5 separate regions of the Homo sapiens genome follow, and all the other regions are linked to region 1. Evidence: fine-mapped expression QTL. A gene starts in region 1. Each other region holds a variant in brackets. All regions are shown on one strand. Distances are from middle to middle. Region 1 holds the start of HS6ST1 (heparan sulfate 6-O-sulfotransferase 1). Region 2 overlaps HS6ST1 (heparan sulfate 6-O-sulfotransferase 1). Region 3 overlaps HS6ST1 (heparan sulfate 6-O-sulfotransferase 1). Region 4 overlaps LOC105373611 (a long non-coding RNA gene). Region 5 has its middle 42 kb from the start of HS6ST1.

What was found. PIP is the estimated chance that this variant, and not a neighbour inherited with it, causes the effect.
Region 2: its variant is the best candidate, but not a certain one, in a credible set for the expression of HS6ST1 in thyroid (GTEx, PIP 0.53).
Region 3: its variant is the best candidate, but not a certain one, in a credible set for the expression of HS6ST1 in skeletal muscle (GTEx, PIP 0.57).
Region 4: its variant is the best candidate, but not a certain one, in a credible set for the expression of HS6ST1 in monocytes (BLUEPRINT, PIP 0.79).
Region 5: its variant is the best candidate, but not a certain one, in a credible set for the expression of HS6ST1 in tibial artery (GTEx, PIP 0.56).

The regions. Positions count from the first base shown.
Region 1 is chr2:128,316,140-128,321,239 of GRCh38, reverse strand. HS6ST1 (heparan sulfate 6-O-sulfotransferase 1) reads left to right here and starts at 2,372. Exons shown (of 2, transcript NM_004807.3): 1 at 2,372-3,203. The coding sequence starts at 2,677. RefSeq lists silencers at 2,030-2,439, 3,134-3,363 and an enhancer at 4,365-4,514.
Region 2 is chr2:128,285,889-128,290,988 of GRCh38, reverse strand. The region is part of intron 1 of HS6ST1 (heparan sulfate 6-O-sulfotransferase 1); the gene reads left to right. Among named protein-coding and RNA genes, the nearest start is that of HS6ST1, 30 kb to the left of the region's middle. RefSeq lists an enhancer at 2,327-3,156. The variant T/GTACATTATCGTT (reference allele first, on the strand shown) is at 2,290.
Region 3 is chr2:128,296,335-128,301,434 of GRCh38, reverse strand. All of the region lies in intron 1 of HS6ST1 (heparan sulfate 6-O-sulfotransferase 1), which reads left to right. Among named protein-coding and RNA genes, the nearest start is that of HS6ST1, 20 kb to the left of the region's middle. RefSeq lists enhancers at 1-296, 297-894, 895-1,493. The variant G/A (reference allele first, on the strand shown) is at 3,042.
Region 4 is chr2:128,447,201-128,452,300 of GRCh38, reverse strand. All of the region lies in intron 1 of LOC105373611 (a long non-coding RNA gene), which reads right to left. Among named protein-coding and RNA genes, the nearest start is that of HS6ST1, 130 kb to the right of the region's middle. RefSeq lists an enhancer at 2,903-3,894. The variant G/A (reference allele first, on the strand shown) is at 2,379.
Region 5 is chr2:128,358,095-128,363,194 of GRCh38, reverse strand. No RefSeq gene overlaps it. Among named protein-coding and RNA genes, the nearest start is that of HS6ST1, 42 kb to the right of the region's middle. RefSeq lists enhancers at 143-681, 682-1,220, 1,221-1,760. The variant A/G (reference allele first, on the strand shown) is at 2,554.

The DNA of each region.
Region 1 (5,100 bases):
TCTTAAAAGAATTCTAGAAAGAAAGGGCTTCCTGGCTAATGTGAGTGCTTCCCATCAGCCAGTGTGGCAGGTATGAAGTTGGATTAAATAGCTTGTTCTGGGAGATGTTGCTCCATGGGTCAGGCTGCTCTGGCTCCCATTCAAGGGTGGGACCTTATCACAGGCACTTCGTCCCTGCCTGGGCCTCAGTTTCCCCCTTGGGACAGTGAGATCATCACAGGGTGGAGCCATGGCCCAAGTACCGATGGCTTCGTTGGCCTTCGGAGCTGCTCCAGCTTTCCCTTGAACACTCTGGGCCCACGTTCCCCCTTGGTGGCAGTGACGGTCACCAGGCTCTCAGGAGTGGCCCCTGTAGACGCTCTCATCCCTGGCCTAGGGAGCTGGGGCAAGTGCAGAGGTGGGGAAGGGGAGGGTTCTGGGGCTCACAGCAGGAATCAGGATCCCAGCTCTGCTGACTCTCATGGGGTGAGAGTGGTTGACCTTGGAACCAGGGTCTTAACCCCTTTGAACCTCAGTTTTCTCTTCTGTAAATGGATATCACAGCCTACCCCCGCAGATTTGCTGATGGAATTGGAAATGACACCTCTACAATGCCTGGCACCCAGCAGGTCTCCAAAAGAGCAGCCTTAATTATGATGTAGCACGAGGATCCTTATCTGGGTAAGGACATCTGGGGGGTGGACCCGGGGCAGCTGTGCTCCCCTAGGCCACACAGGAAGGCTCCCCAGGGCTCAGGCACAGACTGCGTCAAGGGGCTGCAGGCAGGTCCAAGCACACTGCAGGGCGGCCCCACCTGTGTCCCATGGGGACTGCACCCCCACTCCTATAGGAATGAGTCACTTCTGGAGAAGCTTGTCCAAGCTGCCCCCAGGACCCTCGGGCCAGGGACAGTTTTAAAGCAGCCTACAAGATGAGCAGGGGCTTTGGGGCCCTAGGTCCCACTGAGGACCCCACACCATGGACTCCAGGGTGCGCTGGGCTGTGTTGAGGGTTCTGCACCCGCCTGTCCACAGCGGATATTCTTGCGGTCCCTTTGGAAAATGCATGCCGCCCGCTCAGCTGGGTTTGGGGTGTTGGTTTTTCCAGCTCTCTGGGTTTGCTTCCAGGAGGGCTTTCTGGTGTGATGTTGTCTACGTTTAACAGCTTTACTGAGGCATAATTGACACCCCATGATCGCTTCCGGTCCCTAACAGAACGGAAGGCAGGGCACCACCCCGCCTCCCCCCCCACCCCGTCCCCGGCAGGGCTTGACGTGGACACTGGGAGCCCACGCCTGGCAGCCAGACTCGCTCCCAGAGCCCTCGCTGGCCTGAACCAACACACTAGGGCCCACCGCGGCCGGCCCTGCAGCTGTGAGATCCTGGCAGGTCCCAGCCCCACTCCTGCGCTTCCGACGGGCTGCAGCCTCCGAGTACTGCCAGAGCCCAAGCAGTGTGAGTGGGCACCTGGCGGGACCCCCCGCCCCACGAATGCCGCGCGTGCTTGCCAGGCTGGGCGGCGGCGAGTGAGGAGCCCGCACCACCCGGCCCACACACGAGCCAACGTGGAGCGAGCCCTCCGCAGCCAGGTTGGGCCCGGGCCGCTGGACTCTCCAACCAACCCACGAAAGACAGAATATTTGGTGGGCACTCACGATTCTTAAGAATTGGCTCAATGTTTTATAACTCTTTCATTGGAGTATAATAAACATGGATGGGGGAAAATGCACCTCGTCTGATATTCTTTTCAAACAAGGAGGAAGCCATAAAGCCGCTCCGCAGGCCTCTGCAGACAGCCCAACATCTCTTCAATGCGGGGCTGCGGGGCACTGTCCCAAAGCCAGCCGCAGGGGTGAGGGGGTCGAGCAGGAAAGGAAAGCCTCGCTTTCCCTCTCGGTCCTGGTGGTGGGCGGCCCCCGCCGCCCTGGTCCCTGGAAGTGCAGCCCAGTAGGCTAGCGTCTAACTTCAGCGCCCCAGCGTGCAAGGTCAAGGCCTTTCCTCCCGCGCGGGCTGCGGGGACGTGGGCGGCTGGGACTTGGGGAGGAGGGGGTACGGACCCAGGCTCCAGAAGCGCCAGCCGCCGCGCCCCCTCACCGCGGCCCCCGCCAGGAGAGCCTCCCACGCCTCGGCTCCGCACTGCCGGTTGGTCCCCCACTCCCCTGAGGGCGGAATCACTTCCCAGTCGCTGGCTGCCCGCCTGCTAGCGGCCTCGCCACCGCAGCAGACCCAGGTCCCGCGCCCAGCACCCGCGGCGAACCCCGGCACTCCGGAGGCGGGGCCGAGGATCGGCGCGGGCGGCGACGGCAAGAGACGCCACGGGGGCGGGCCAGGGGCGGACCGGGGCGGGGCGGCGGCGGCGGACTGCGGAGACGCGGCGGCGCGCGGGGCGGCGCAGAGCGTTCTCGGCGCGGAGTGGAGCGGAGCGGGCTGGTGCTGGGGGCGCGGAGAGCGCTGTGCTGGCCGGGGCCGGGAGCGGGGCCGAGCGGGAGCGGAGTCGGGCGTCGGGCCCGGGGAGCCGGGGCCGGGCGGGGAGCAGCCATGGCACCGCGGAGGGTCGGGGCCCGCGCCGCTGCGGGCGGCCTGGGCGCCGAGTAGCCGGGCCGGGCCGGAGCGCGGGCGGCGGCGGAGGCAGCTGCGCCCGCGCCTCCTGCCCTCCCAGGCCCCGCGCCCCGCGCCCGGGCCCCGGCGATGGTGACACATGCGGCGGCGGCGCGCCGGCGGCAGGACCATGGTTGAGCGCGCCAGCAAGTTCGTGCTGGTGGTGGCGGGCTCGGTGTGCTTCATGCTCATCTTGTACCAGTACGCGGGCCCAGGACTGAGCCTGGGCGCGCCCGGCGGCCGCGCGCCGCCCGACGACCTGGACCTGTTCCCCACACCCGACCCCCACTACGAGAAGAAGTACTACTTCCCGGTCCGCGAGCTGGAGCGCTCGCTGCGCTTCGACATGAAGGGCGACGACGTGATCGTCTTCCTGCACATCCAGAAGACGGGCGGCACCACCTTCGGCCGCCACCTCGTGCAGAACGTACGCCTCGAGGTGCCGTGCGACTGCCGGCCCGGCCAGAAGAAGTGCACCTGCTACCGGCCCAACCGCCGCGAGACTTGGCTCTTCTCCCGCTTCTCCACCGGCTGGAGCTGCGGGCTGCACGCCGACTGGACCGAGCTCACCAACTGCGTGCCCGGCGTGCTGGACCGCCGCGACTCCGCCGCGCTGCGCACGCCCAGGTGAGCGCCCGGGCGGCGGGATCCTCGCGCAGCTGCGCCCCCGAGGCCGGGCCGTATGCCCGCCGTGCTGTACTGGGTCGGCCCTGCCTTCCCTACCCCCTTCTGCCCTCTTGGGGGCCCCCACTCGCCGGCACCCCTCCCGACCTGCCGAGCGCCCGAGGCTCCCAGCTCCTCTGGGTGAGCCGGCTGTCACCGCGCTTTCTGACCTCGCTCTCACTCTCTTCCTTGCCTTGTGCTGCCCTACTGCCGGCTTGACTGCGCAGCGCCCGGGTTTTCTCCAGGGTCCCCGCCCGCTGCCCTCGGGCCACCTTACCTGCTGTGCGCCGTGAGGTCTGGCCCGCCGGACTTGGGGACGCGGGCTTCTGGGTGTGTGCGTGGCCTACCTGGAGTGTTGGCTTCCCCGTGCCGCTTCGGTGCTGTGGTCCCAAAAGTGGAAGTGAGAGTAGTGAGGTGCCGCCCCTGTGCCTGGAGTGCCTGCCTTCAGAGGGTGGGGGAGCTGCCAGGGAAGGGGGCTGGCTCTGCCCGCCTGCCTGCCGGTGTGTGCAGGTAGAACAAAGGCCCTGTTGACCTGGGGCTGGGGGCGGGGAGGAGGCAGTACCGCCTGTCCTCCCAGTGGGGCCTGCCAGCCGAATTCTTCCAGGCACAGGCTTGCCTGGAGAGAGGAACAAAAGCCACCCGATGGGGGACCACCTTCCCCAGGAAGCTACCAGCCAGGTTGGGGGTAGTTGAGCTGGTCCAGGGAACCTGTGCTGCCACACCCCTTCTCTGGGGTCCCCCAGCCCCATGTCAGAGCTGAGCTGCGTGAGGACACAGAGCATGGGAGGGGTGCCGGGGCAGCTCTTCTGGGAAGCCGTTTGTAGGGGAACCTGGGGTGCTGCTGGGTTTCCAGCAGTTAAAGTTGGGGTTATTTTCCTCCTGTTCCTGTTGGTGCCCATTCGTCCTGCAGGGATGCCCTGCGGGGCCTTTCTCCCCAAAGTCTGGGCTGGGAAGGGCCAGGAGCAGGGCTTCTTGTCTGCCTTTTGTTTCTCTTCCAAATTTGCCTTAGGACTGAATTTGCAGACAGGCTGGTGGTAGGAGGCTGGGCGGTTGTAGGCGTGTTGGCTGGCACTCTTGGGTCCAGAGGCTGTAGGCTCTCAGGTGTGCCTGGGGAGCCTGGAAGGTCCAGCCAGCCTGGAGCTGAGCAGAGTCCGAGACACTGCTCCCCTGCACAGACCTCAATCCTTGCTCTGTGGTCTTTCTCAGGCTGTCAGGAAATTGGGGTCCTAGAGTTGGAGGGGCATCTTCCCACTTTTCTTTCTCCCCCCTCCCCCAACTGTACACACACACACCCACACACACACACACACTGCAGCTCCCAGCCTGGGAGGTGATGTTCTGAGCCTCTTACAGCCACATTCTACACTTGGCGGTCACAGAGCTGCCTGTCTAGGGCCCCTGAAGGATTGCTTCCGGCCCAGCACTTAGTCTGCTCTGCACAGATGCACGTTCCTGCTGCAGGGCCCCCCTAACCCTGGTCCAGCTTCTCTGTGCTAGGCTCAGCTGTGCCTGGGACCACAGCCATGCCCCCACCCACCCTTCCACCAGTCAGAGCAGTAGGCTCCCAGAGTTGGTCACTGACCAATACCAACAGACGCCTCCCTACCTGTGGGGGGTGCAAGGATGGGGGTCACCCCCTTTGCCAGAGGGACTTAGCTCGGCAGCCTAAGAGGATTGCGTGGAAGCTTCGGGCCGCCAAGAAGCCGGAGCTTTTGAAACAAGCCTGCTCAGCAGAGGCCACCTCAGCCCTAGATTGCAACCAGGATGCTCTTCCTGCAGCCCCGCACGCCTGTGGGTCCCCAGGGTGAAGAGCCTTGGCCTCCTTTCTCTGGAGTTTGTCCATGAGAGTGGGAGGACCAGG
Region 2 (5,100 bases), 30 kb after region 1:
TTTTAATTTGAGACAGTTTCACTCTTTTGCCCAGGCTGGAGTGCTATGACACGATCTCCGCTCACTGCAACCTCCACTTCCTGGGTTCAAGTGATTCTTACGCCTCAGCCTCTTTATAGGTGCGTGCCATCATGCATGCTAAATTTTTTTTTTTTTTTTTTTTTTTTTTTTGTATTTTTAGTAGAGACGGTGTTTCGCCATGTTGGCAAGGCTGGTCTTGAACTCCTGACCTCAAGTCATCCACCTGCCTCAGCCTCCCAAAGTGCTGGGATTACAAGTGTGAGCTACCACGCCTGGCCAAATTAAGGGACTTCTATTCCTAGTTTCCTGAGAGTTTTTATTATGAATAGTGTTTTTAGCAGATGCTTCTTACACATTTACTGAGCTCTGTAGTCTGTTGCTGTGATGAGTCACATGTATGGATTTTCTCCTGTTAAGCCATCCTTGCATACCTGGGGTTACTAAGTATGGTCGTAGTGTAATATCTTTTATATGCTCAATTGGGTTGGATTTGATAAGATTTTTGTTGAGGAATTTTTGTATCTATATTTGAACTCTGAGCTTAGCAGATGTGTCCACCAGGCTGCAATTTTCCTCTCTTGTGCATTTGTCCAACTTCGGTATTAGGATTATGTTGGCCTCATAGAATGAATTGGGAGTGTCCACTGCTTTACTCTTGTCTAGGAGGGTTTGCTTACAAAAATCTGGTTCTTTTAAAATTTGGTAGAAATAGCCCAGCACTTTCTTTGTAGGAATTTTACCCCTAACTTTTTATCTTGAAAAATGTCAAACTTACAAAGTCGTTGAAATGGTAGTAAAGTGAACCTCATACCTTTCACCGAGACCCACTGCTTGTTAACATTTTGCAATATTTGTGCTTGTGAGTGGGTGCTCTCACTTGCTGTTTACATATATGTATATCTGTAGATACATGTGTACTTACATGTATATTTATATATGTAGTTATATACATGCTTTTGCATTTTAGTAGAATCATTTGAATGTAAGCTGCAGGCATTTCCTCAATATTTTAGGAAGATTTTAAACTACTGCTTTGATTTTTGCTTTTTGAGATTATCGGGCTATTTGTGACTTATATTTGGACATTTTATACAAATAATTTGACTGACAGCTATCCTCTCTCTATCTCTTACATGTTCTCCTGGTGCCTCTGGCCTGTGGTTGGTGAAAGCAGGTAGGTCTGTTCCGGCAGCTTCCTCTCTTTCCCTGCCAGCTGGGGTGGGCCCATCCTCATGCCGAGCGTCATGCTGTGACCTCCAGGAGGCATATTGTCTTGTTTTGTGCAAGGAGGAAACAGATGACAGATGCATTCCTTGGGGAACTCGTCAGGGCCACACAGCTGCTGGATGGCAGATCCCTTAGCAAGCTGGAGACCTGTTTTCTGGTGCTGCCAATGGCGCGCCGGGTTCTCCTGGGAGCTTCGTGCTGCTCATCTCAGGGACCGTGCACGTGGGTGAGCAGCAGACATGCCTTGTGGCCTATGAAGTCAGACACCTCTGGTATCTGGGAGACTTTGGCTGCAGAAGGATCTCTGAGTCTCCATTTGCCCATCTGCAGGGGGATCTAATAGTGGCGACCGTACCGGGGTTGCAGGAATAAAATGAGCAAATGCCTGCTGGGCCCTAACCTTTTTTGGAGGCACCAACCACAGAAGTGCTTGATGGGGGGCCATAAAATGGCTGGTTCTGGAGAGTCAGCATTCCCGAGTCCCCAGGGTCACTGCTCAGGTGACAGCTTTCTCAGTGCATCACCCGGAGCTGTCGCCCTCCTTGTAAGTAGAGCCAGGGCCATGGGAGTATAGAGTTGGATACTGCAGTTAGCTTGGGCACAGAATGGCTTATCTCTGGGGTGGGCTGTTTAGGCTCTGAATTTCCCTGTCTGGGGAAGAATAGTCTACATTCAAGAGCATGCAAGGCCATCTCTCCGCGGCCGCCTCTGTGTTTATATGGACTCGGGGGTTGAGGGAGCAGGTGTCAGCCCCTCTTCGCTGCAGAGAGGCTCTGTGGGGTCGTGGGTGAGAACCAGGACTTTGCCTCGGACCCTGACATGAGTTGCTGTGGGGTCAGCAGGAGGTGGAGCCTGGAGGGGTCCCAGGGACACCCCCAGTGATCCTCAGATGAGCTCTCGCCCTCCTGACCCCGAGAAAGGCTGATTACTGGTGATGATCCTGTGGCTTTGGAGATGTCCTGAGAGGCTGCTGGGGAGGCCCTGAGCCTCCCAGGCCTCCCTGACTCTCCTACCTCCTGTGAGAAAGTCAGATTAGATTGT[T/GTACATTATCGTT]TTGTTTGTTTGTTTGTTTTCTAATACATGCATGGTTATATAAAATCGGAAAAATACAGAAAAAGTAAAAGAAAAAATGGCCCAGGGCACTAGGCCCAGGGCACCTGGCGCGGGTTGCATTTCTGCTCCATCTCTCCAGTTGATGTGTTTTCCAGAGTTGGCATCAGGCTGTACCCACAAGCTTTGATGTGGCTCTTTTGCCCATTGTGCACACAGATATGAGCTTCTGTGTTAATGCAGAGTCCCCAGAAGGGCTGTGCTTTTCTACTGCCATGGAGTCACCGGGCGTAGGTATCAAGTCGTGCTGGCTGGCCTCAGGGCCCTGAGCACTTTCTCACCTGGCAGGGACAGTTTCATAGCAGGGTACAAATACTGCACACCCCGGCAGGACCTGACGCTGCCGCCAGCCTCCCTCTCGGGCCTCCACGTCTCTCTTGGTGGGCCCAAGCAGCCATGGTGGATGTGTAGTTACAGGCTGTAAGGAAGAGGAAGGGCCACGTGAGTCCTCGCAATAGCCTCAGCAAAAGGCCTAGAAGCAGAAGGAGTGAGCCCCAGAGCTCTTGGCCAGGACAAGAGGAGGCCATGGCTCTGGAGACAGGTCTCAGGCCGAGCCAGCCCGCCCCTAGTCAGCTGCCCTGCTGCTCGACTGCGTGCCCTGTGAAGAAGCAGGGCACTGTCACCTTCTCCTGACCCCAAGGTATGAGTGTGTGCGTTCAGGCATAAGTGACATCTCGCCTGCCGGTGTCAGAAGCCAGAAAGTGCCAGGCAGGCAGGTGTGAAATATGAATGGGCAGCCTTCATGACCGGCGAGCAGCCCCGCAGGGCCCTCATGGCCTTGCTGGAGCCCTGCCTTGGAGCAGCAGGCAGGAGAGTCTGAAGGGCAGTGGGACACAGGTGAGGAGGTGGTCCTCACCCCTTCTGCTCATGGAAGACCTCGGCAGAGCCCCATTCCAGGTGTCCAGTCAGCAGCATCTGGGCCCGGGCTGCTCACAGCCATGCTGGGCTTTTGGACAGGGTCAAGCTCCCAGAAAGCCATCCGCCTGTTCTCCCCTCATTGAAGAGGGCTGGTGCAGAGCACCCCTGGACCCGGCGTCTCTAGCTGGCCCTGCTGGGAGGACATTGTCAGCACCTCCTCTTGTGGCCCCTACCCTGGGGGTGACTTCTAGGACCTCCAGAAGTCACAGCCTTACCTGACACCTGCTAGGTGGAGGCAGTCCTAAGCCTCACATCCCGGCTCTCTGCCCAGTTCTCTGTGCACCCCCACTTCAGTGCTGTTGGAGAAGCAGCCCGTCAGGGGACCTGCTGGGGGTCTCGTTCACCCTCACTGAGTAGGGGGGGCAGCTGTCCCTGCCCACAGCTGGGCAGTGCATCTCAGGGGAAGGGGCCTCACCTGCACCTTCTCTGGGGGAGTGCCCTGGGCCCTGGATATATCCACTGAGGTGCTCTTGCAGGGGGACTGCCCTGGTCAGGAATGGGAGTGACCATTCCTGGGACCAGGAGGGGTTGGGCGCTTCCTTCCCATCAGTGCCTTTGTGGAGGTGTGGCGGGTGTGGCCTGCATGGCACCCCACAGTGTGTGTCCACCTGATGGCTAAGCCACCCCCTGCCCCAGAGGGTTCCTTGTCAGGGCGCAATGAGATCATGCAGGTCAGGGGGCTTTGAAGGAAAAGCTTTGGGCTTCCCCCAGTGTGGGGCCTCTGCTTCCTGGTCACTTGCTCCCCGACCACCCCAAGGGGAAGGTGGGAGTCTCAGGCTCCTAGGAGGCATTCAGAGGGGCCTCCTGCTTTGGGGGATGCTGTTCCCCAGGCAACCAGGTGGGGCCTTGGTTTCTCTATCTGGGTGGGCACAGCTTTGCAGGAGGCAAGGCGTATCGTGGCCAGCAGCCTGCTCTGTTTTCTGAAACCTTTGCTGACCTTGTTTGTAAAGCCAGCAAAGATTTTCACCCGCTTGCAGACGTTGTTAGGGAAGGGGCTGAGGAGGTATTTCCTAAACCTACGCTAATAAAGCCTCTTGTTTTTTATTTTTTAACAAGTCAGTATTTTGACACAAGGTCAGAAGTTTTCCTTTTTCCCACCATTTAATAGCAGTGTCCTGTCCTTGAAACCATGAACTCATTTCCTCTTCTGACCAACCCGTGCATTTGGATGGCCTGCAAAGCCTGGGCGTGCAGTGCAAGCTCCCAGGGGCCCTGCCCGGCCTCCTGCCTGTCCTCTGCTGCTCTGCAGGTTTGTCTGGAATTCATTCCCCAGCCCCCTTGCCAGGCCTGCTCCTCCTCGTCCTCCAAGCTCCTGACCTGCAGTCTGATGAGGCCCCCTGACCCACCCCTCCCTGGCGCTTGCTTGCCTGGGTCTTTAGTGTCTATGTTCCTGGCCCTGCAGGATGCTGTGAGAGCAGGACCCTGGCTCCAGCCCGCAGACCTCGGCCACGATAGATTCCCCCTGGGAGGGAGGAATAGGAATGGCAGATTGGATGGGACAGGGACTGTGACAAGGTGAGATCACACAGCTCACATCTGCTGCACCTGCTGGGGTCCCCCACGCCAGTCCTGGGCTGGATGAGCCCTCACCCCTGCAGGGTGCTGTAGGCTCTAAGTCTCCCTACATACGCCACACACCAGATCGCCAGTCTGGGAAGTGGCTTTCTGTCTACGAGTTTTATGGAGACAGTCCCTGGGGCTCAGAGGGGCCAGGGTGACTGTCCCCAGGCCACACAGGACAGCTGGCAGAGCAGGAATCCCACCTGTTCATCCATCTGACACTGGGACCTGTGTCCCCTCTGGCTGTCTCATCCAATTCCTCAGCCCCCTTGCCGG
Region 3 (5,100 bases), 20 kb after region 1:
CAGGATATTAGAGGAGATGCTTTTCCAAAGACGATCTGCTGTCATTGCAGACACAGGAAGGGTAGCCTGGAGCCACATGGCCCCTGGGAACCCCTGCCTGACACACAGGGCGCAGGAGCCATGCAGCCCCTGGGGATCTCTGCCCAACACAGAGGGGTACAGGAGCCATGCAGCCCTGCCTCACACAGAGGGGTGGCTAGAGCTACGCAGCCCCCGGGAACCCCTGCCCCTCACAGAGGAGTGGCTAGAGCCATGCAGCCCCCGGCGACCCCAGTCCCACACAGAGGGGCGGCTAGAGCTACGCAGCCCCCAGAAACCCCTGCCCCTCACAGAGGGAGGGAAGGCTGGTTTCTATAGACCATTCAGGAGGCTGTTGCTGCATGTACCCAAGCAGCCAAAAGCCCAGACTCCTCAAACTTTGTGACCCAGGGCTCCCATTCCTTTCTTTTGCCCTCCCCAGCTAATGACAATGACAGAGGCACTCATTTCTTAGGCATGTGCCATTGCACCCACCCCCACCACACACAGCACACGGTGGCGGCTCTCCCTTGAGAAAGATACTGGCGGAGGCTCAGACGGGGTGTGGGGCTAGCTGCTCTGGAGGGTGAGACACGCCCAGAGCAGCTGGGAGGAGGGTCTGCCCTAGGCATCTCATGGATTGACTGTGGGCACAGCTGGCATGGCAGGGGCCCTGGGTGTGGCCAGGTGATGCTGCCGGGCAGAAGTTGGGCCCAGTCCTGGGCATCCTCGTCCTCCACCTGCGTAACTCAAGGTGGTCCGCCCACCCTGCCCTTAGTTACAGCCTCCCCCGAAGAGATTAATTACAACAGGTGCTAGACAGACAGTCCTATGGGGGTCCCAGCTGTCCCTCCCTACTTGCTGGGAGAGGGACTGGAGCTGCTCAGCTTCAGGGCCCAAGAACCCAGAGATACCCCCGTGCACACAGCGCCCCAGGTAGACACCTCCGCGAACACACGGCCCCCTTGACGTGGCCCAGGTGCAGGGCTGGGGGCAGGCGTACTGTGGAAGCCACACCTGGTCACCAGCATGGCCCAAGGCGGCGCTGGTTTGGGAGAGGGTGGGTGGTCCCCCCCTCTTCTCCAGTGTCCCATCCCTGCCAGGGTCCAGGTAGGGATGGTAGCTGTGTCCTGGGGCTGCAGGCCCTCTCCGGAGGGCAGGCTCCGCTGTGTGGGCCTCCTGCACAGCCTCGTCCATGCCAGCTATGCCCTCAGCTTAATGCCGTGGGTTGGGGATGGGCCTGTAGTTCTGGTTGCAGGAGCTTGGAGTGTGCTTGGAACTTTGGAGAAGCCCCCCATTTTACAGAGGAAGCCGCTGGGGTCCTTGGTTTGGTGAATTCAGCAGTATAAGCAGAGTGTCACCCGGGTCCAGGCCTGACTCTCCCATGCTGCCCCAGCCTGGGCTTCACAAGACAATCTGAGTGCTGATGGGAAGCGGCTGGCAAGACCCCGGCCTGGAGGTGGGGTAGCCCTCTGCCCACCAGAGCCACCCTGCCTTGCTGGCGCTGGTGTTTGTGCTGCCACAAGCTGTGTTTCCTCCGTCTGCTCAGAGCCCAGGGGTCTGCTGCCCTCGCCAGCACCCCCAGCCTCCGCCTGGCAGATGGGCTGTGTTAGCAGGGCCGGGATGGGGGAGGGGTTATGAGCCTCTCAGCCACAGCTCCCTACCCTGTGTGCCTCTGTCTCTCCGCCAGCTGGGGTCTTTCCAGGCAGGCCTGGCCCACTGTGATTACCCTCTGTGCCCCAGCTTTCTGCCGGGGGCCTGGCACAGGTCACGCGTGGCCTTCAAAGACAGAGATCCACTGTGCTCCTCACCGGCTTGTGAGCTCTCTGCTTCAGTTTCCTCATCCACCACATGGGGCTGGGCCTCAATGTGCCTTCAGCTGCTGCTGTGGCTCTTCCTCATTGGGCCTGGAGTGTCCAGCGTAGGGGTCTGGAGGATAGGGCATGACCTGCCATCCACTCAGTTTCCCCACATGTCACACTGAGACTGGGGCCAGCAGAGCCTCAGCAGCATAATTTGCAATCTGTGTTGTGTTGACCTCTTATAGTTTGCTAAGAGTGGGCCGGCCAGGGCAGAGGGCTCGCTCCTGCTGATGGGCCTGTGTCCAAGGGTGCAGCTGTGGCCTCAGTTTGCTCCTTTGGAGGACGGGAGAGCAGAACACCACCTCCCATGCTGTTGGGGTGCGTCGGGGAGTTGTGGTGCAGAGCAAGGAGGGAGCTGTGTGCTCTCTGCTGCATGGCAGGAGGCAGGCACTTGCGAAGCCTGCTCTGTCCCTGCAAAGAACAGAAACTGGGTCCTTGGCTAGGTCACACCTCGGCCCTGGGCCACGTCCAGGTGTGTTTCTGCCCCATCTGAGGCCGATTCTGGTGCCCTTGGCCTCTGGTCCTCTCATTCCGAGAGCCGAGGAGTACCCCACACAGTCATGCAGGAGGGAGAGGGAGTGAGGGGTGGGTTAGGCCTGGGCCAGCCCCACTGGTGGGCCCAGGGTGGCCGCGCCCAGGGACGTGCTGCTTTCCCTCCTGAGAAGCTGTTGGGACTTGGCTCTTGAGGACACTCGTTGTGGGAAAGCCTTTTTTTGTTTTTTATTGTGGTGAAGTATGCATAACATAAAATTTACCATTCTAACCATTTTTGAGTGTACAGTTCAGTGGCATGAAGTACATTCACATTGTACAGTCATCACCATCATCCGTCTCCAGAACTTTTTCATCTTCCCAAACTGAGCTCTGACCCCATTAAACACGAACTCCTCATTCCCCTCCCTCCAGCCTCTCACGCCGTCCATCCTACTTCCTGACTATGAATTTGGCTACTCTAGATAGCGGATTTAAGTGGAATTATATGATACTGTCTTTTCACGACTGGCTTAGCATAATGTCTTTAAGGTTCATCCATATTTTATCCTGTGTCAGAATCGCCTTCCTTTTTAGGGCTGAGTAATACTCCATCGTCTATATGTACCATATTTTGCTCATCATCCCTTCATCTGTCAGTGGACTCTTGGCTGCTCCCTTCTTGCTATT[G/A]TGAATGATGCTGCTGGGAACATGGGTGTACAAATATCTGTTTAAGTCTCTGCTTTTAGATTGTTTGGGAATATATCTAAAAGAGGAATTGCTAGATCATATGGTAATTCTGTATCTCATTTTTTTTGAGAAACCACCATACTGCTTTCTACAGTAGCTGTACCATTTTACCTTCCCACCAGCACTGCAGAAGGGTTCCAGTTTCTCTACATCCTTGCTAACATTTCTTCCTGTTTTTTGATAATAGCCAGTCTGATGGATGTGAAGTGGAATCTCATTGTGGTATTGATTTGCATTTCCCTAATGGCTAACGATGTTCATCTTATATCTGCTTGTTGGCCATTGGTCTGTCTTCTTTGGGGAAATGTCTACTCAAATGTCGCACATTTTTTAATTGGGTTGTTAAGTTATAGGAGTTCTTTATATATTCTGGATATTAATCTCTTATCAGATATATGATTTACAAATATTTTCTTCCATTCTGTGGGTTGCGTTTCACTCTGTTGATACTATCCTTTGATGCACAAATATTTTCAATTTTTTGTTTTGTTTTGTTTTTGAAACAGAGTTTCACTCTTGTTGCCCAGGCTGTAGTGCAATGGTGTCATCTCGGCTCACCGCAACCTCTGCTTCCCAGGTTCAAGCGATTCTCGTGCCTCAGCCTCCTGAGTCGCTGGGATTACAGGCATGTGCCACCACGCCCAGCTAATTTCTGTATTTTTAGTAGAGACGGGGTTTCTCCATGTTGGTCAGGCTGGTCTCGAACTCCTGACCTCATGATCAGGTGGATCACCCACCTCGGCCTCCCAAAGTGCTAGAATTATAGGCATAAGCCACCATGCCCAGCCTAAATGTTTTTAATTTTGATGAAGCCCAATTAATCTAGCTTTTCTTTTGTTACCTGTGTTTGGATGTCATATTCAAGAGATCATTGCCAAATCTAGTATCATAAAGCTTTTTTCCTGTGTTCTAAGAGTTGACAGTTTTAGGTCTTACCATTGGTCATTAATCCATTTTGAGTTAATTTCTATGTATAATGTTAGATAAGGGTCCAATTTCCTTCTTTTACATGTGGAAATCCAGTTTCCCCAGCACCATTTGTTGAAAAGAGTGTGTTTTCCCCATTGAATGGTCTTGGCACCATTTGACCATATATGCAAGGGTTGATTTCTGGGCTCTTTATCGTATTCCATTGGTCTATATGCCTATCTTTATGACAGTACCACACTGATTTGACTACCATAGCTTTGTAGTTAAGTTTTGAAATCAGGAAATGGGAGTCCAACTTTGTTTTGTATTTGTTTTGGTTTGGGGTTTTTTTTGTTTGTTTTTGAGACAGGGTCTCGCTTTGTCATCCAGGCTAAGGTGCAGTGATGTGAACCTGGCTCACTGCAGCCTTAACCTCCCAGGCTCAAACAATCCTCCCTCATTGGCCTCCCAAAGTGCTGGGATTACAGACATGAGCCATTCTTTTTTGTCAAGTACTTTAGCTATTCAAAATCCCTTGAAATTTCATATGAATTTTAGGTTAAGTTACTCTATTTATGCAGCAAATACTGTTGGGGTTGTGATAGGGATTTCATTAAATCTGTAGATTACATGAGTAGTATTTACATCTTAATGATAGTAGGTCTTTCAGTTCATGGACATGGGATGATTTTCCATTTACTGGGGTTGTCTTTAATTTCTTTCATCAGTGTTTTGTAGTTTTTAGTTTACAAGTATTTCACTTCATTGGTTAAGTCTCCTCCTAAATATTTTACACTTTCTGATGCCAACAAAAACATAATTGTTTTGTTAATTTCCTTCTTGTATTGTTTGTTGCTAGTGAATAGAAATACAACTGATTTCTTTTAATTTTTACTTTAACAACATTGTTAAGTTAGTTTATTAGCTCTAACAGGTTTTTGTGTGTGGAAGTGGATTCTTTAGCATTATCTACATATAAGATTATGTCATCTGAGAAGAGAGATAACTTTCCTTTTTTCTTTCCAATCTGAATACCTTTTACTTATTTTTCTTACCTGATTGCTCAGGCTAGAACTTCCGGTACTCTGAT
Region 4 (5,100 bases), 130 kb before region 1:
ATGGAGGCTGATGGGTAACAGAGGTTGGTGAGTAATGGAGGTTGGTGAGTAATGGAGGCTGATGGGTAATGGAGGCTGGTAGGTCATGGAGGCTGCTGGGTAATAGAGGCTGGTGGGTAATGGAGGCTGATGGGTAATGGAGGCTGGTGGGTAACAGAGGTTGGTGAGTAATGGAGGTTGCTGAGTAATGGAGGCTGATGGGTAATGGAGTCTGGTAGGTCATGGAGGCTGGTAGGTTATGGAGGCTGGTGGGTAATGGAGGCTGGTGGGTAACAAAGGCTGGTATGTAATGGACGCTGATGGACTGAGGATCTGTGGGAGGCTGAGTGGGGTGAGGCTGAAGCCACCAAGCAGCTGCTTTGGACTGAGTGCAGCAACAGTGCAGAAGTGACTGCGCTTGGACCGGCCACTGGGCAGGTGAGAGACAGTGTGCGAGAAGTGAGGGGAACAGGCTGGACAAGCCACCATCAGGCTACATAGGACCCATGCTCAGCGGTGACACTATGTGGTGGGGTCAGGCAGCCACAGAGGAAATGGGACTAAGTTCTTAAGTGGAGTAAGACCCAGGACAGCCAAAGGGCGGGGAGGCCTCACCCGGAGGGAGAGGGGCTGGAAATCCTCCTAAATAAGGTGGGGGAGGTTCAAGCCCTTAGCTGGAAAAATAAAAAATAAGAACACATATCTGCATGCAGCTGGGGAAGGGGGCAAGGGGCTCACCCACCTAAACACCAGGCACAGAACGCACCTGCCTCCTTGCCCCTCCTGCCCTCCACTTCTAAAACCCAGACTCAAGACTCATCCTGGTTACTCTCACAACAAGGTGACGCTGGGACTGGATCAAAGGCTATTTCTTCCAAGGAAATGTATTGCTGAACACACCGAAACCAAAGCACAGAACATCTCAGGGTAACATTCTGGACTTAGGAAACAGGAGCCCTGTTAAGGCCGGAGGGCCCTTCCTGCTGCCACTACCAGAAGTTGGGCTGGCCCCAACCCAGACACAGGGTCACAAATGTAAATATGTCCAGAGCACTTTCCAACATCATGGTGCCACCGGCTCCCAGAAGGCTTCTAGGGCACTGACCCAGCCCCTCCAGCAGGGACACTGGGGCCCCCAGAAACCGGTGTGGCCCTCGCACACATCTCCAGCACAGTCCTTCTTACCCATCCCCCAGGCGAGGCACTTAACCCCCCTGAGCTGCTGTTTATCCATCAGTAAAATGGATAGAATAATATCAATCTCACCAGGGTGTTATTTAGATTTATTTATTAATGCTGGCAATATACTCAGAGCCCTCAAGATTAAAGCAATAGATCATCAGGAAATATTATGGCATCCTGTTGCCATAGCGATGGTTCCATTCTTCCGGCTCCTCCTCGAGCCCTGCTGCAGCATCAGGCTCAGAGGGTCTGGGGAGCAGAGCTGCACCAACCAGGGCATTAACACTAACAACAGTGATAATTAAATTACACAGAGAGGAAGCCCATGAAATATGTATGGGAGAGAAATGGATTTGATTCATTTAGGCAAATGGGCATGTTTTCCCATTAGAAATGGCTCCCTGGAGCCTGTGGCTAGCTCTCTGCAGCACTCATTTCTTTAGATAAAGCAGGGGATTAGGGGGTTCTGGAAGACGCCTAAGTCAGGGGCGGAAGTGGGGCAGAGATCCAAATTCTGTGCAACCTTCCTGAAAACACAGCCGCTGCCCCAGGCCCAGGGGGGCAGGGTTCTTATTGCAGAAGGACCCTGAGTCTGGCCCTCACCCAGCACTCATGAGCAGCTTCCGCAACTCCCTAGCTGTCTCTTCTGTAAAACGGGGTGACACTGGGAGTGACCTGGGATTGTTGTGATAACTCAAGGAAAGAGGTAGTGGCTCCTCCAGTGGTGACCCCTGAAGGAGTGGGGCCCTCTGTGCTGAGGAGATGCCTGGTCTCAGAGCCGAGGCGGGAACGCTGTCTGCCTGCCATTGGCCATCCAACGCACCATCCAGCGAGAGCATACAGCAGCCTTATGACGCAGAGGCATCAAAGAGACCCATGAAGCAGAGGCATCAAAGCTAGGTGCATCTCCCAGTCTTCTTCATCCATTCCTTTTCCTCACCCTCCCAGGCTAGCCCAGCCCAGGCCACACTTCTGGGTGGCCATGTCCACCCTGAGTGGCCCTGCCTCTGTAGAGGCCTTAGTGACAGGGACCCAGCCTCGTCTGCCTGCTCTCTTCCTGTTTAGGATGGGGTGAGCCTCAGCCACCACTTTCTGATCCCAGAGACAGATGTCACTGTCCTGTTGGGAGCTGCTGCAGCTTTGGCCAGGAGCCGGAAGTAAGCCTGATGCCAGAGGCCTGGGCCTCTGAAGGGAAGGGCTGGGAGCCAGACACACGC[G/A]GGGCTTCGGAGTTGCGGTATATCCCCACCAGCACTGGGAAGACAGCGCCACAGCCCCACTAAGCCTGCCCTCTATAGACGGCCTTCCCTGAGATGGCTCAGTTCAGACCGGGAGGGTCAGGCTAGGAGCACGGGGCCCAGGCCCACTCCCGGAGGCTTCTCTCTCCAGCAAGGCCACCACCCACTGCTCCTCCACTCACGCAACTGGGAAGGGCTGGCTGTGCCTTGGGCCCACCGCCCTCCTTTCTTGGTTACAGTCTACTTGCAGAGGCTCCACCATCCAAAAAGATCTCGGGAAAGGCCCCTCCAGCACATGTGGTTCATGCCGTGGAGTGAATTCGAATCCCCATGGTAACTGCGAGAACAAGCAGTGCTCAGTGTGCACTCTACCCCAAGACAGCCCCTGAGGCCGTACTGTTACCACGCCCGCTTTACAGGTGAAGAAACTGAGGCTCAGTGAGCCAGTCACCACCCACAGTCAGAGGGCATCAGCCAGACAGGACTCAGATCCAGCTCGGGCCCCTCTCCCAGGAAGATTCGTGTTCATCACTGACAGAGGACTCCGTCCTTTGGTAAATCCCAGGCCCATGCTTGTGTGTGCCGGGGTGGGCACCCTGACTTAGTCCCTTGCTGCATCCCTCAACTGTTCAGCCCAGGCAACGTCCCTGACCCCTCAGGGGTTTTACAGGTCCTCTGCCATCTGCGTGTACCTGTAATGACCAGGGGGAAACAGCTCTTGAGGACAGAGACAACATGCCAGCACACAGCTCCTAAGGAGCCTGGGTCTCATTGACCTACACAGCAGCCAGGCCCATGAATACCCACCCACGTGGCCAGGGAAGGTTGGGGGTGCCTCCCTAAGGGGCCAACTGGGCTACTGCCAAGCAGCTGTCTGAGGTTGCCAAGGGGCACCCTGACCCGGGAAGTCACTGTCTGGGTCTGGTTCTCACATCATCCTGGGTGGCTTCCAACTCTTCTCATGGCTGGGGCCCCCTCCAGACCAGGAGCTTCTCACAGGCAGGGACAGAGCCTGATTCACCTGGGGCCTGAGCCTCCCACCTGCACTCCCTGCAGGGGTGGAACCAGCTCTCTGATTCCAAGGCCCAGCCTCTCTCTTCCCACCTCATGAAGGCTCAAAAGGACTGACAGCCCCCTTCCACTAAGGCCCTCGGCCCAGACCCCTCTCCTGTTGCTCAGGGTTAGTGAGCAGAAATGGCCATGGCTTTGCTCTCAGACATTCTAGCCACTCAGCAGCACCCCTCACCCTTGCCACTGGCCAGGCACTGTTCTGGGCATGGAAGAGACTGGGGGAACAAAGCAAATCGAAACCCCAGCCCTGGCGATGCTCACATTCTGGCGAGGGAAAGAAAAGACACCCATCTCCGTGGGACATCACTGAGCACTGTGGCGAGAGGATACGGCAGGGCAGGGGGCAGTGCTGGGGTGACAGGGAGGAGGCAGCACGTGCCAAGGCCCTGTGGCGCAGCCTGCCTGAAGTGTCCAGGTAAACGAAGAGCACCTGGGCTGAGCTCCTGGGGCCCTGGTGGGGGCCTAATACCTGCCAGGTCCTTCATAGCCACCATATCCCTGGAGCCCCACAGCCATCTGACAAGAGTTAGCCCTGTTTTGCTGTTCAGGAAACTGAGGCCCAGAGATCTTCGATGGCTTTCTAAAGGTCACCCACAGTGTATGATTTGATCCTAGTCTGCGTGGCTCCAAAGCCTGTGTGTGTCCACCTGCCCCCACCGAAACGCTGTGGGTCCCGCCCCCCACCTGCCCCCACCATAATGCTGTGGGTCCCGCCCACCACCTGCCCCCACTGTAACGCTGTGGGTCCCGCCCCCCACCTGCCCCCACCATAATGCTGTGGGTCCCGCCCCCCACCTGCCCCCACTGTAACGCTGTGGGTCCCACCACCCACCTGCCCCCACCATAGCTCTGTGGGTCCCACTTCCCCACCTGCCCCCACCATAATGCTGTGGGTCCCGCCCCCCACCTGCCCCCACTGTAACGCAGTGGGTCCTGCCCCCCCACCTACCCCAACCATAATGCTGTGGGTCCCGCCCCCCAACACCTGCCCCCACCATAATACTGTGGGTCCTGCTCCCCACCTGTTCCCGCCATACCACTGTGAGTCCCGCCCCCCTTCCTGCCCCCATTGTAACGCTGTGGGGTCCTGCCCCACACCTGCCCCCACCATAATACTGTGGGTCCTGCTTCCCACCTGCTCCTGCCATAAAGCTATGGGGCTGGCTCCCCAGCACCTTGCCCAGGCCCAGGTGTCGATGTTCCTCCCAAGGAATGATTGGGTGGATGAATGAACACTGAGATGTACCTGGGTGTGGTGGCCTCCTGAGCCCTGCTGACAGGGGAGATGGTCTGCCTGGACAGGGGACTGGCCAGGGCTGTCTTCAGAGCAGGCGGCACCACCCACGGGGGCCATGGCTGGGAATGTGTCCACTGCTGCTGGGCAGCCCCAGCCAAGCCCAAGGGAGGCAGAACAGTGGCCTCCGGTCAGTGTCCCTTTGCCCAGCTCCAGACCCAGGGCAGGCATTGTGGGTGATCAGCAGGGGCCATACCCCACCCAAAGTTGCCTCCCCACACCTGGACTGACGGCCCCTGGAGGGTGGTAGCAGAGAAAGACACTGGGACCCCCGGGTGCTCCTGTCCCTCTCTCCAGCCTCCCCATCTCCTGCCTTCACCCTGAGAGTCCCAGCCACAC
Region 5 (5,100 bases), 42 kb before region 1:
CCCCTTCCTGAGTCCCCTGTGGAGCAAGTTTCATCTGACAACATTCTGGAAAGCCCCACCCCAGTCGCTTGGGGTGGAGACTGACTGGAGCCCAAGCCACCAACTCCGCACCGCTCCTGCCTTCCCCGGAGCTGAGTCTGGAAAGGATGCAGACATGCTTGGAATCTCAAAAATGTGCCCCTTCTCAGGCCTCTGCCTGCACCGCAGCTCACTCAGCCTCCTGGGAGTCAGAGAGTGGAGCTGGGGCTCCAGGGTGGTCTGGGAAGGAAAACCCACCCCCCACCCTCCCAAGACAGGGTGGAACTCCTGCCCCACCCCCAACCTAGCACATAGATTTCCTCTGCGCACCCCCAGAGCTGCCTGCAGGCCTCAGTGGGGCAGCTCCAAGGAGGAACACTGGCTCTAATCATCGCTGGTAATGCAGCCCTGGGGGACACCATCCCAACGCCATGATCTTCAGGAAGGCCCAGCCCTCAGGGGCCACAGCAGACAGAATATGGCAGACAGAGGACCGTAGACAGGGAACAGGAGACAGGGAAAGCAGACAGGGGATGGCAGGCAAGAGACAGCAGACGAGGACTGCACGCAGGGAACAGGGGATAGCAGGCAGGGGACAGGGGGCAGTGGACAGGGGACAGCAGACAGAACAGTAGACAGGGGACCGCAGACAGGAGACAGTAGTCAGAGGACGGTAGATGGGACAGCAGACAGGGGACAGTAGATGGAGACGGCAGATGGGGACAGTAGATGGGATGGTAGACAGGACGACAGACAGGGGACAGCAGGCAGGACAAAAGCATCTTTCCAGCAGCTCCTGCCTGGACTGAGCCCTCCCACACTCTGCACAGGGCCTAGAGGAGCTGGGAGGTTAAACACGTGCGGTGAGCCTGCCTAAGAATCTCATCTCAGTGGCTCAAGTGCAAAACAATTTTATTTTTCCTCCAATCACTGCCTTCAGCCATATGTGTTAAATCTCTCTTTAGACACATCCAAGTATAAAAATCCAGTCCAGAAGAAAAGGTGTCCGTGCACTGGAGTCTAGTTAAATGTGCATTTCCCCTCCACGCTCCTGTCTCAGGGCAGAGCAGAGGCTTAGGGCTGCAGTGCCAGGGACTGCACTAGGGGTGGCCTCTTCCCCTGAGGATACACCCGACAAGGTTCCAAGCCTGCCAGATCCCAGCCCTCCTGGGTGCATCCACAGCACAGCACCAGGTCAGCCACGCTCGGTGGTGCACTCTGCACTCACAGGAAGCTCCAGCCTCCTGGACACACCAGATGGACAGAGGTGTCTGGCTCTGCCCTGGCCCCGCTTTAATCCTCTCCCTGCTCAAGGAAGCTGGGGACAGAGCAGCACATCAGTCTGGGCCACCACGCGATGGAAGGCCCGTGCCCCCTACCTGCATGACCCTCCAGTTTCCACCGAGGACCCTCCTCACCTCCCAGGGTACCCTCAATTCTCTTTTCAGCTTGTCTCTCAGGATGAAGGCAACCACTGCTGTCCCCACCACCCTTGCTGAAGTGCTTCCATAAAGCACATGCACCCAGGGAGCTATCTGGTCAGCTCTGCCTGCTCTAAGGTAGTACCACAGCCTGGGAGGCTTAGCAGCAGATGCGTGTTTCTCACAGTTCCGGAGGCTGAAGTCCAAGATCAAGGTGCTGGCAGATGTGGTGCCTGGTGAAGGCCTGCTTCCTGGTTTGCTGGTGGCCACCTTCTCACTGTATCCTCACATGGTGGAGAGAGATCGTCTCCCGTGTCTCTTCTTAGAAGAGCGCTAATCCCATCATCAGGTCAGGACCCAGCCTCATGACCTCCCCTAAGCCTAATCACCTCCCAAAGGCTCCACTTCCTCCTAAGATCTTCACATTGGGAGTTAGGGCTTCAATGTATGAATTTGGGGGGCACAAGCATTCAGTCCATAACAGTACAGATACCCATGATACTGTGAAAATTACGATGGGCATTGTATGAATGACACGGTGTCACACTTGTATCACCTCCTGCAAAACCAGCTGGGCTCTGCCCAGCGGCCTCCAGCCATTGGGGCAGGAGACTGGGAAGGACAGAGCAGACCTGCAATGGCGGAGCAGCCTCTGTAGGGCCGAGCTCTGCCTGGGGCTTTCTGCAGTCTCTCTCCTGTAGACCTCAATAACCCCATCATCTCCATTTCACAATGAAGAAACTGACCCTGAGAGAAGGTGTGTGATTTGCCCAAGGTCACTCAGCCAGCACAGAATGAAGCAGACAGCCTGACCCACATCTGAGTCTACACCAGCGATGTTCCAAAGGCGGCCTGGGGGACCCCCCAGCGTCTCAGGATCTTTCCAGGGATCAGAAAGACCGGACTTACTTTCACAGTAACACGGAGCCCTGATTTGCCTTTCTCATGCATTTTCTCACAGAGGTATCCAGGGGGCTTTCAGAGGCTCTTGATGCATAACGCAGCCTCACCCTGATGGCTGACAAAACGTGTGCTTCTGTCTTCCCGTGTTTTGCAAATTTATCAGTTTTAAACTCTAATGTAGTGAACACAGTTGTAACCACGGAGTGCTGGA[A/G]GATGTTAAACCACCAGCTCTCCAAGCCATAGGGCCCCACTATGCAGTATTTGCCACTTTCCGTGGTGTAAATATTTTCACCATGATCGATGTTAAGCCACCAAAATAACATCACTGGGTGCAGAGGTGGAAAGAAAGTGCACAGTCAGTTCTTGCCAGCTGGTGAGACAGCTGAGGCACATCACTGAAAAGACGCACACAAAACAGGAGCTCTTTAGGGTCCTCCCTATTTTTAAGGGTGTAAAGGGGTGCTGGCATCAAAAAGTTTGAGAACACTACTACATCACCCCTGACTGAACAAGGTGCAAAGAACTGCAGGAGGTGCCATCAGGACTTGGGAGGCAGGGGATCTGGTCTCCACCTTCTGGAAGCACCAGCCTAACTGGGGAGCCCCTGATGGGACTCAAGCAAGTGAAGGGAGAAGATGTCTGGCCAGGGTTGGAGAGAGGACGAGCCTGTGGCCTGGAGAGGCCCCGGGGGCACGGGCCATCAGCTGGGCGCTGGTGCCATGGGGAAGCCTGGGCTCTGTTGTCAGGATGCCCTGCTTTCTGGTGAAATCGGCTGTGATCTCCCCATTGGCATCAGTGCCCTGGACACTCAGGGTCCCACGGCCGCCAGGCATGCTGAGCAGGGACACAGGTGGAGCAGCAAGAAGCCTGGTGGTTTGCAGACTGACAGGGCAAGGGCCCCTCCAGAAGGGAGTGGACTGAGTCAAACAGGTTAGACTTGACGTGGTCCACTGACCCCAAAACCGACGGCCAATCCACTTCGTGTTGCTGTAAAGGAATACCTGAAGCTGGACAATTTATACAGAAAGGGGGTTTAATTGGCTCTGGGAGCATCTGCTCCGCTTCTGGGGAGGCCTCAAGGAGCTTTCACACATGACAGAAGGGGAAAGGGGAGCAGGCATGTCCCATGGTGAGAGGGGAGCAAGAGAGAGGAGAGGGAGGTCCAGACGCTTTTTAACAATCAGATCTCATGGTAACTCATTACCACAAGGAGGGCACTAAGCCAGTCATGAGGGCCCCACCCCACTGACCCAAACACCTCCCACCAGGCAACGTGAGGCTTGGAGAGAACACACATCAAGCCATATCCCTGCCCTTTAGCAGCAGTCTAGCTGAGGCCCGAGGTGCAGCGGCTGCCCGACCCAGCTGCGGCCACCAAGCTTTTTCCAAGCATCTACTCCAGTCAGCTGTGGTCCAGGGGCTGGGAGCCCCACGAAGAAGGCTAGCAGAAGCCAGGCTATGAGAGGGCAGCCAGGATGCCCTCATGCCCAGGAGAAGGAAAGGCAAGCCCTGGGTGCAGGAAGAGGCAATGGCAGAGGTGTGAAACAGCCTCAGGGCTGAGAGGCAGGACCTCTGAGACTGCCCAGAGCACAATGAGGCGAGAAAGGCGCGAGAAAACCACGGCTGGCACGCCCTGCCAAGTGTCAATTCACCCAGCCAGAGACTCAATGCTGCTGGAGTGGTCCGTCCCAGAGGGCCCCACAGCCTGGTCCTCATTGGTCTCCCGTGCTCTGGTTGGTGGCGGTGGGGTTTGGGGTCCACTCTGAAAGCCTATCCCGCCCTTACTTCTGGTTACTCTTGGTAGACTTGACCTAGCCTGCTCCATATTCCTCCCCATTCCCCAGGGCTTCTGAGCAGTCTCTCCTTGGAGGAAGCAGGCTGGGAGGAGGTAAGTGTGAGGCTGCTGGCATTACCTTCCCCCGCATAGGCAGGAGCTGTCAGAAGGAAGCTAAATGCCAATAAACCTTTTGCCCAAGAGGATGATGATGGTTTGGCTTCAGTGACTAGTTATTAAAAGTTATTATTTTTTTTTGAGACACAGTTTCTCTCTTGTTGTCCAGGCTGGAGTGCAATGGCGCGATCTCCGCTCACCACAACCTCCGCCTCCCGGGTTCAAGCAATTCTCCTGCCTCAGCCTCCCGAGTAGCTGGGATTACAGGCATGCGCCACCACGCCCGGCTAATTTTGTATTTTTAGTAGAGATGGGGTTTCGCCATGTTGGCCAGTCTGGTCTCAAACTCCAGACCTCAGGTGATCCACCCGCCTTGGCTTCCCAAAGTGCTGGGATTACAGGCATGAGCCACCGCTCCCGGTCAAAAAGTTACATTTTCATTTGCAGAAGCATAGACAGCAATGGGGAAAGGAGAAAGGGATCATTAAACTAGGGGCATGTACAGCTTCCAGGGCTCAGTGTGAACAGACGGACAGCAAAGGATTGGCAGAGCATTGCCTTCACCTCTGTCTACTGAGACTTGAAACGTATTGAGTGCCCTTTACAAAATCATCCCATTTCATTCTCCCAGCCCGGCAAGGTAGGCAGAACCTTCACCCAAAATACATCGTAATTGAGAAAACAGAGGCTTAGAAAGGGTAAGTGACATGCCCAAGGGTGCCCAGCTGGTTGATGGTGGGGCCAGGATTCACAGGCTACCTGACCACCACCCTCTCAGCCACCAAAACCTAAGGTCAAGTGTGAGAGCCCAGGAGTCTGAGGCAGGACACGAATATACCTCTGAAAAAGCTGGAAGATGGAAAAGAC